Linked DNA regions of Homo sapiens: regions 1 and 2 are each linked to region 3. Evidence: fine-mapped expression QTL. A gene starts in region 3. Each other region holds a variant in brackets. All regions are shown on one strand. Distances are from middle to middle.

What was found.
Region 1: its variant is fine-mapped to the expression of ZNF688 in whole blood (INTERVAL, PIP above 0.99).
Region 2: its variant is fine-mapped to the expression of ZNF688 in whole blood (INTERVAL, PIP above 0.99).

Annotation. Positions count from the first base shown.
Region 1 is chr16:31,072,087-31,074,838 of GRCh38, reverse strand. ZNF668 (zinc finger protein 668) reads left to right here and starts at 599. Exons shown (of 3, transcript NM_024706.5): 1 at 599-1,180. ZNF646 (zinc finger protein 646) reads right to left here and starts at 417. Exons shown (of 3, transcript NM_014699.4): 1 at 208-417. RefSeq lists enhancers at 1-183, 539-678, 184-717, 1,337-1,631, 923-1,723 and a silencer at 989-1,448. The variant C/T (reference allele first, on the strand shown) is at 1,495.
Region 2 is chr16:31,124,121-31,126,872 of GRCh38, reverse strand. All of the region lies in intron 3 of KAT8 (lysine acetyltransferase 8), which reads right to left. Among named protein-coding and RNA genes, the nearest start is that of KAT8, 7.8 kb to the right of the region's middle. The variant TG/G (reference allele first, on the strand shown) is at 1,269.
Region 3 is chr16:30,570,615-30,573,366 of GRCh38, reverse strand. ZNF688 (zinc finger protein 688) reads left to right here and starts at 1,653. Exons shown (of 3, transcript NM_145271.4): 1 at 1,653-1,933; 2 at 2,244-2,357. The coding sequence starts at 1,738. RefSeq lists a silencer at 1,646-1,885 and an enhancer at 2,748-2,752.

The DNA of each region.
Region 1 (2,752 bases), 500 kb before region 3:
CCCGGAATTCTCACCTCACAAAGCCCCTTTGATCAAAAGTCCCCTCCCCTAGTCAACCACCAATGAAGTCCTCTGACCTCACTCATCTCGTCTGCCAATTTCCTCTCAGGACGCCTACCTCGCACCGGCGGCCCCCTCTCCTTCCCGCCGCGGGCGCGTCAGTTGGGGACCGCGAACAAGAGCGCGCCTGCGCACTGGGACCCTTACCCTAACTGCAGCCGCGCGCCCCAAGGGGTGGCTGTCGGGGGGCTCTCGCGCTCCCACACACGCACACTCAGCCAGGGTTCCCGGGAGGTGGGAGGGAAGGGAAAGAGGGAAAGGAGAAGGGGGGAAGAGGAAGGAGGTAGAGAAAAGAGGGCGCAGCTGGCATGAGCCAGGAGTCTACTCCCAGCTCTACGGACACTTCCTATTGTTACTAGGAAACAGGAAGTGTCCTTAGGTGCAAAAGCTTCCCCGCGAAACTTCCGCTTCGGGAGCACTGCCTGTCCCGCCTCCGAGCCGCAGTTTTACGCAGACACACTTCCGGCGCTAAGTTCTAGGTCTGCACGGCTGACTCCGCCCACGTAGGTCACAACGCGGCGTCTTTGCACGCTAAGCTAGCCACACTTCCGGCAAGAGCAGCTAGAATCGTTCCGGTGCATATTGAATAGGCGCAGAAAGGGAGAAAAAGATTCTACAGCCCTGGCCACAGTACTTTGGTGACACTTTTCGTGGGGCTCTCTGGAGGACTTTTCCCAAGGCAGATGGAGAAAACTTCGTGAAACCCACTCCTTGCTATTAAAGGAAATGTTGTGGAATATAATTGGACTTAGGTTTTGCAGAGCTTGAGCATGGCCTTTTTGTCCTCCCACCTTCTGGTTCTTGAAGACATTGCCGGTGACCTGGCCCCAGACTAACACAAGGCGGGCGTATACCGTCAGCCTGCCTGGCGTCCCCTTGCCTCAGCACACACAGAGACCTCTTGCAAGATGCTTCTCTGCCGCCATAGGCTGGAGGTTCCCCGGGAACTTTCCCTTCCTTCCTAGCTGAGGAAGATCCCTCACTTCCGCTCGCCGCGCCACCGGTCCCACCTCCCCGCCCCCCGCTGGGTCCTAGCGCCGGCCCCTGTTTGGCAGGGTCCGGGCTCCGTCGGTGCGAGGAGCCGACGCCGACGCCACGGAGTCAGCACAAGTCTCATCAGGTAGGAAACGTCGGCGGGAAGCCGCGAGGGCCCCGGGCAGCTCCCACGCGGCCACGATCCGAGCTGGCCTCAGTTTCCCTGCGGGCGCCGAGGGCGGGCCGGGTTGGCCCAGCGCGAGCAGCGCGGGCGGGGCGGGCTGTGAGCGGCCCCGGGCGCATTGCGGGCCCAGCAGGTCCTAGAACCCGCCGGCTGTCTCCGCGGTTCTGGGCTGCGGACACCCAGGCTCGGCCCGCGCGGCTGCTGGCCCGGCGCGGTGTGGTCCCGGGGGTCCTAGAGCCCGCCATGTTTTGGGTTTTTGTCCCGGTCGCGTGGCC[C/T]GCGCTGCAAGATCCCAGGCGCCGGCGGCCCCCTCCCCTGCTGAGGCCCGGCCACCACTCCCGCGGTCCTAGAGAACGCCATCTTGCAAGCCTTTGTCCCTCATTCGGCCTTCCGTCCATTCATTTGTTCATCTCCTCATCCTTCGTTCAGTCCTCCTTGCCACGTCCTCCGAAGCCACGTTTTCTGAGGCTTATAACCGGGGTCCTGCCCTCCAGGGGCTGCCTGGCTGGCGGGGGCGCCGCGTACAGACGGTTGCGAGGAGCGAGGAGCTCCGGGTTTCTGCAACTCTCGGCTCCTCGGCGCGCTTCGTAGGCCCCACCGCCCTTCAAACTCCCACAAACTTAAGGGACCCCATTTTACTGATGAGGAAACTGAGGTCCAGAGCGGCGTGGGGCCCTTACCTCTCTACTGCCATAAAGTATTCCTGAGGGCACTAGGGAAGGGGGTTCTTGAAGGATGTAAAGGGGCTTTCCCGTTGGAGAAGGCAGGCAAGGGCTCCCCGAGCCCAGGAAACTGCATCTAGAGGTGGAGGATTGAGAATTGTGGCTGGAGGTTCGGTCGCTGCCGGGAGGAGGACTCTGTCGCTGGAGCTGAGGCTGGAAAAGTAGGTTGGGATCAGGTTGTGAACTGGCCCGGTAGGAGGCCTAGGATATGATTAGCGCTCACTTCTGCAGGGTTCATCCGCTCACTACGTCACTCCTGGCCGTGAGGCCTGTGTGGTGACTGCTTGTTTAGAGATGGGAAGATTGAGGTGCCTCCTTTTTCTCCTCATCCCTGCCCCAGGGTCCTAGCCTAGGATTTTTGGAAATTGAATCTTTGCTTGCCTAGTGAGACAGCAGAACTTCATCCCCTTCCTAAGCCAGTAGTGAGGCAAAGCAAGGCTTCATCGCCACGACAGGGAGCCCACTGTGGGATATTGGGGCAATAGTTGAGCCTTGTGGAGTTGGAAAGGTGGAGGAATTTAGTTAATAAACAGTTATTGGTGGACATTCTCACAAACTCCTACTGTGGAGGAGGCAGAGGCTACAGACCTGGGTTCAAATTTCATCTGAGGTTGGTTCTTTCCATTTGTTTTGGGTCACCACACAGGGTTCTGGGTGTAGAGGAGGCAGATGATCGGTTTCCTAGCCCTTTGCCAGCCTGGACTCTGGTGCTGGTGATGAAGAATTAACAGCCAAACCATAAGATGTGTAATGCTAGCAAAGCAATAGTCAGGGCTCAGAGAGCAGGTGTTTGGGATTTGAACACTGGCTGGGA
Region 2 (2,752 bases), 550 kb before region 3:
GGCTGGTCCAGACTCCTCTCACACCCACCCGCCCCACCCCCGATATCCCAGACATCCCTGATGTCCAAGTTTGGACCTTTTGCCAGATGAACAGGGTTAGGATCAGGATGGGGCTTCAGCTGCACGATGGGGGGCAATCCAGCTCTGCCAAAGTTGTGAGACTCAAATGAAATAACAGATTTGCCTTCCAGGCCCAGCGTAAGAACTGTTACTACCTCCCCGATGTTCCTGGACCCCTTTCCTGAGGACCAGACCCTGCCTGCCCATGCGACTGCCCCAGAGGTCCCTCCCACAGGGACAGCGGACTCAAGATGTGCAGAAAGGACCTCATCACTCCTCCCTGCAAACCTGCGCCTCCTCCTGGGTTGCTCATTTTACTGGGAACATCACCCTTGGTCCCAGTGTCCAAGACCCATAACTAGGCTTGCCTCAGACTACTCTCTCTCCCTCGGCCTGGCCAAGTCCTAATACAGTGGATGTCGAGTCTACTTCTGACATCTCTGGAATTGGGCCCTCTCTGGAATTCTCCTCTCTGTCCTGCTCCAGGTAGTCATGGCCCCATCTCAGGTCTGGACAATTTACTAGGCCGCCTCAGACTCCCTGCCTCCAGCCCCAGCCTCCTCATTGCTATCAGCAGCCCCCTTTTAGCGGCCTTCATGCTTCTGCACAAACAGCTCCTTCTACCTGGAGAATGCCCTTCCTTCTCTCACTGCCAGCAGAAAACACTTCCTCAGCCTGGCACGGAGCATGAGTCAGGTGAGTCCATGATGCTTTGTGATCTATCCTTTGTCACTGTTGTTATTGTGCTCTTTCCCATCCTTCAAGGCTTGAGATTCTTACCACCCCCTCCAGGAGGCCTGACTGGATTCTTCCCATCCAGAAAACATTCCCTCCTTCCCAAGTTCAGCGAGAAGTGGTCAACAGGGCAACACTGTCCAAGTATGCCCACCTGGGTTCCTCTATTTTTCAAGTCCTTAGAAAGCAGAGACTAAGAGTCACACCACACTCACAACACATCCTGCTCCTAGGCCAGACCCTGTGGGAGGAACCCAGTACAGCCTGACAATGGAAGGGGGACCCAAGACGGTCCATGACCTACACCAGGGCAGACAAGGCCCTGCCCTGTAGCTGAGAAGGGAGGAAGGAGCCAGTGCTTTACCCAGAACCCCCTCCACAAAGCACTGTGCCTATATGTTTATATGGCCTCATTTAATCCTTTCAGTAACCCTTACATAGAGTGTTATTTCTTTTTTTTTTTTTTTTTTTTT[TG/G]AGACGGAGTCTCACTCTGTTGCTCAGGCTGGAGTACAGTGGCACCATCTCGGCTCACTGCAACCTCCGCCTCCCAGGTTCAAGCAATTCTCCTGCCTCAGCCTCCCAAGTAGCTGGGACTACAGGCACATGCCGCCACATCCAGGTAATTTTTGTATGTTTAGTAGCAATGGAGTTTCGCCATGTTGGCCAGGCTGTTCTCAAACTCCTGACCTCAGGTGATCAACCAGCCTCGCACTCCCAAAGTGCTGAGATTACAGGCGTGAGCCACTGCACCCAGCTGCGTTATTTCAATTTTACAGAGTAGTAAACAGGCAGGGCAAGGTGAGGTCCCTTACCCTCGGGGACTAGTGAGCTGCCATTTATTCCAAGTGGCAAGCACGGCACAGACATGTTTTTTTTTTTTTCTTCTGAGATAGACTCTCACTCTGTCGCCCAGGCTGGAGTGCAGTGGGGAGATCTCAGCTCACCACAACCTCTGCCTTCTGGGCTTAAGTGATTCTCCTACGTCAGCCTCCCAAGTGGCTGAGACTACATGTGCCTGCTACCATTCCCAGCTAATTTATTTTGTTTTTTGAGATGAAATTTTGCTCTTGTTGCCCAGGCTGGAGCAATGGTGCAATCTTGGCTCACTACAACCTCCACCTCCTGAGTTCAAGCGATCTTCCCACCTCAGTGTCCCAAGCAGCTGGGATTACAGGCGCCCACCAGCAAGCCCGGCTAATTTTTTGTATTTTTGGTAGAGATGGGGTTTCACCATGTTGGCCAGGCTGGTCTTGAACTTCTGACCTTCAGATGATCCACCCACCTTGGCCTCTCAAAGTGCTGGGATTACAGGCATGAGCCATAGCCTTTTTTTTTTTTTTTTTTTTGAAATGGAGCCTCGCCCTGTCGCCCAGGCTGGAGTGCAATGGCAAAATCTCACGTCACTGCAACCTCGCCTCCTGGGTTCAAGCGATTCTCCTGCCCCAGCCTCCCAAGTAGCTGGGATTACAGGTGTGCACCATCACACCCAGCTAATTTTTTGTATCTTTAGTAAAGACAGGGTTTCACCATGTTGGCCATGCTGGCCTCCAACTCCTGACCTCGTGGTCTGCCTGCGCCTGGCCTCTTTTTGTATTTTTAGTAGAGACGGGCTTTCACCATATTGGCCAGGCTGATCTCGAACTCCTGACCTCAAATGATCCAATCATCTCAGCTTCCCAGAGTGCTGGGATTACAGGCATGAGCCACTGCACCCAGCCGACATTATTTCATTTTGTTCCTCACAATGAGCCTTTGAAATAAGAGTGCTCATTGTCCCTGTTGTATGAGAGAAAACTGAGGCACAAAGAGGTGAGGTCACTTGCCCAAGGTCACAGAACTGGTACTCAGCAGAGTTGGGCATGGGCCCCTGGTCTGTCCAATTCTGAACCTAACCACTGTAAAGATGAGGAAGAAAGATTTTCCTCCTCACACATCTCTTTAAAACACATTTCCCAAT
Region 3 (2,752 bases):
GAAGGGGAGACCCGGTATGAGAAGAACTGAGGCCCAACCCAGTTTAGAGAGGAGACTGAAGGCTAAAGGAGGAAGGTTTCCCAGGAAAAAAAAAATTAGGATTTGAAAGTTGATGCTATCTTTGATAATTTGGAACAACGTAAATAAGTAGAAATGGCAGGGCCGGGCGCCGTGGCTCACGCCTGTAATCCCAGCACTTTGGGAGGCTGAGGCGGGAGGATCACCTGAGGTCGGGAGTTCGAGACCAGCCTGACTTAATATGGAGAAACCCCGTCTCTACTAAAAATACAAAATTAGACGGGCATGGTGGCTCATGCCTGTAATCCCAGCTACTTGGGAGGCTGAGGCAGGAGAATCGCTTGAACCTGGGAGGCGAAGGTTGCGGTGAGCCTAGATAGCGCCATTGCACTCCAGCCTGGGCAAGCCGAGATAGCGCCATTGCACTCCAGCCTGGGCAACAAGAGTAAAACTCCTTCTCAAAGAAAAAGTAGAAATGGCTGGGAACCGTGGCGCATGCCTGTAATCACAGCACTTTGGGAGGCCGAGGCAGGAGAATTGCTTGAGGCCAGGAGTTCCAGACCAGCCTGGGCAACATAGCAAGACCCTGTCTCTGTTTTAAAATTTAAAAATTAGCCAAGCATTGGGTGTGCGCCTGTGGTCCCAGCTACTCGGGAGGCTGAGGTGAGAAGATCGCTTCAGCCCGGGAGGTCGAGTCTGCAGTGAGCTAGGATCGCACTGCTGGGCCACAGAGCAAGACCCTGTCTCAAAACAAACAAAAAATAAATTCATGTATGTTAGCAACAATTACTATTTAATTTAAAACTTCCCCATTCCGATTCCATCCTCACCAAGCACGTTCCTTCGCCTGCAGCTTCGGTCTAGAGCCTGAGCGAGCCGAGCTGCGGATGCCAGGGGCTGGGTGGACTCCGCAGCTAAGCTACTGTAAAACACGCACCTGCTTCTACCGCGGGTGTACACATGGTTTGCCAGGGTGTGCGCGTCTTCCCAAGGGGTCTGGGGACCAAATTCCAGCTCCCGCCATCGGGAGGCACGGTAAGAGACCGTAGGGGACACAATCCCGAGCACCGCAGATGCCGAGGTCTCCGCTGCGCTCCAGTCTGTCAACAGAGGCTTCAGGACCGCGGGGTCCCTTCAAATGCCCCGCCAGTCCCAGGCCAATCACCGCGCAGCTTCTTCCGGGATCGTCGCCAATCATCGGCCGTTGCGTATTGCGGGTACAGAGGGGTAAGTGAAGCTTCGGGCCCTTACATCTTTCTTGAAGGCAAGAAGCCTCTCCTCTACTTCCCAGACACCCCGCCTCCCCCACTAGAAAAAGCAGCCGAAGCGGCTTTATTTAAGGGCAAGTGGGACGATGAGGCCAGAGAAGTCAGAAAGGCTCCATATTTGATATGGTCAAATAATGGCGCCCTTAAGAGCAGCCTGTGACAATTGAAGGGTGGTCGCCATATTTTCAGAAGGCACCTTCCGGGTCCCTTAACCCGGGTGTCTATGTCCAAGCGGCCATGAAGTGAATAAACACTGAGGAATTATATTTGTCCCTATCAGAATCCTCGAATCCCTAGCAGCCAGTCCCTGCTACTTCGGTTGCCTCGGCTGCGTTCGGACGCCACGGCTGGGCGGGGCCGCCCTTCCTGTGGACAACGACAGCTGAGGCCGGGAGCGGGGAGGCGGCGGCTCCAGGGACCTGGCGGCCGCCGATCGGGGCTGCGAGGCCCCATGGCGCCGCCCCCAGCCCCGCTCCTGGCGCCGAGGCCCGGGGAGACCCGGCCTGGTTGCAGGAAGCCCGGGACTGTGAGCTTCGCGGACGTGGCCGTGTACTTCTCCCCGGAGGAGTGGGGCTGTCTGCGGCCCGCGCAGAGGGCTCTGTACCGGGACGTGATGCAGGAGACCTACGGCCACCTGGGCGCGCTCGGTGAGAGCCCCGGGTCCGAGCCCCCTCCTCCTTCACCGGGTTCACAGGGGAGATGATGTAGAAGGGCCGAGAGGACTGTGAGCCCTAATCCCGCACTCTTGCACCAACACCAGCAGCCACCTCCCGTTCCCAGGGCTTCAGGTACCCCCTCGGGAGTGTTTTCACCCGCATCCATTTCATTCAGGCAGCAGCACTGCAGCCCCTTCCAGGTTGAGTATAAGCTCCGAGGGGGTGCCCTCAGCCTGGAGGGGAATGCCATCTTCCCACGATGGCCTCTCAGGCCCGCGCTGTGATCCCTGTTCTCTCCCAGGATTCCCAGGCCCCAAACCAGCCCTCATCTCTTGGATGGAACAGGAGAGTGAGGCTTGGAGCCCCGCCGCCCAGGATCCTGAGAAGGGGGAAAGACTGGGAGGAGCTCGGAGAGGTGAGGGATAGTCCCGGGTCCCCCCACTTGGTTTTCCAGGGCTTCCTGTCTAGCAGAGTTTCTTTTCAGGCCCCCACTTCCAGCATCCCTAAAGAAATTCAACTGTGTTGGGTACTAGAGGAGTAAAGAAGGCAGACCTGGTACAAAGTTTTCAGAACATGGGACAGCGGTCCTGTGAGGACTGGGAGCCCAGTCCAACCAGGCACTCCAGCCTGGGTGACAGAGTGAGACTCCGTCTCAAAAATAAATAAATAAATAAATAAATAAATAAATAAATAAATAAATAATAGCCCCTGCTTCCTGAGCACTTCCTAAGTGCTTAACATGCATCTACTCAGCTAAACCAGTAACGCTGTGAAGTCAAAAGCCATTATTATTCCCATTTGATGCATAAG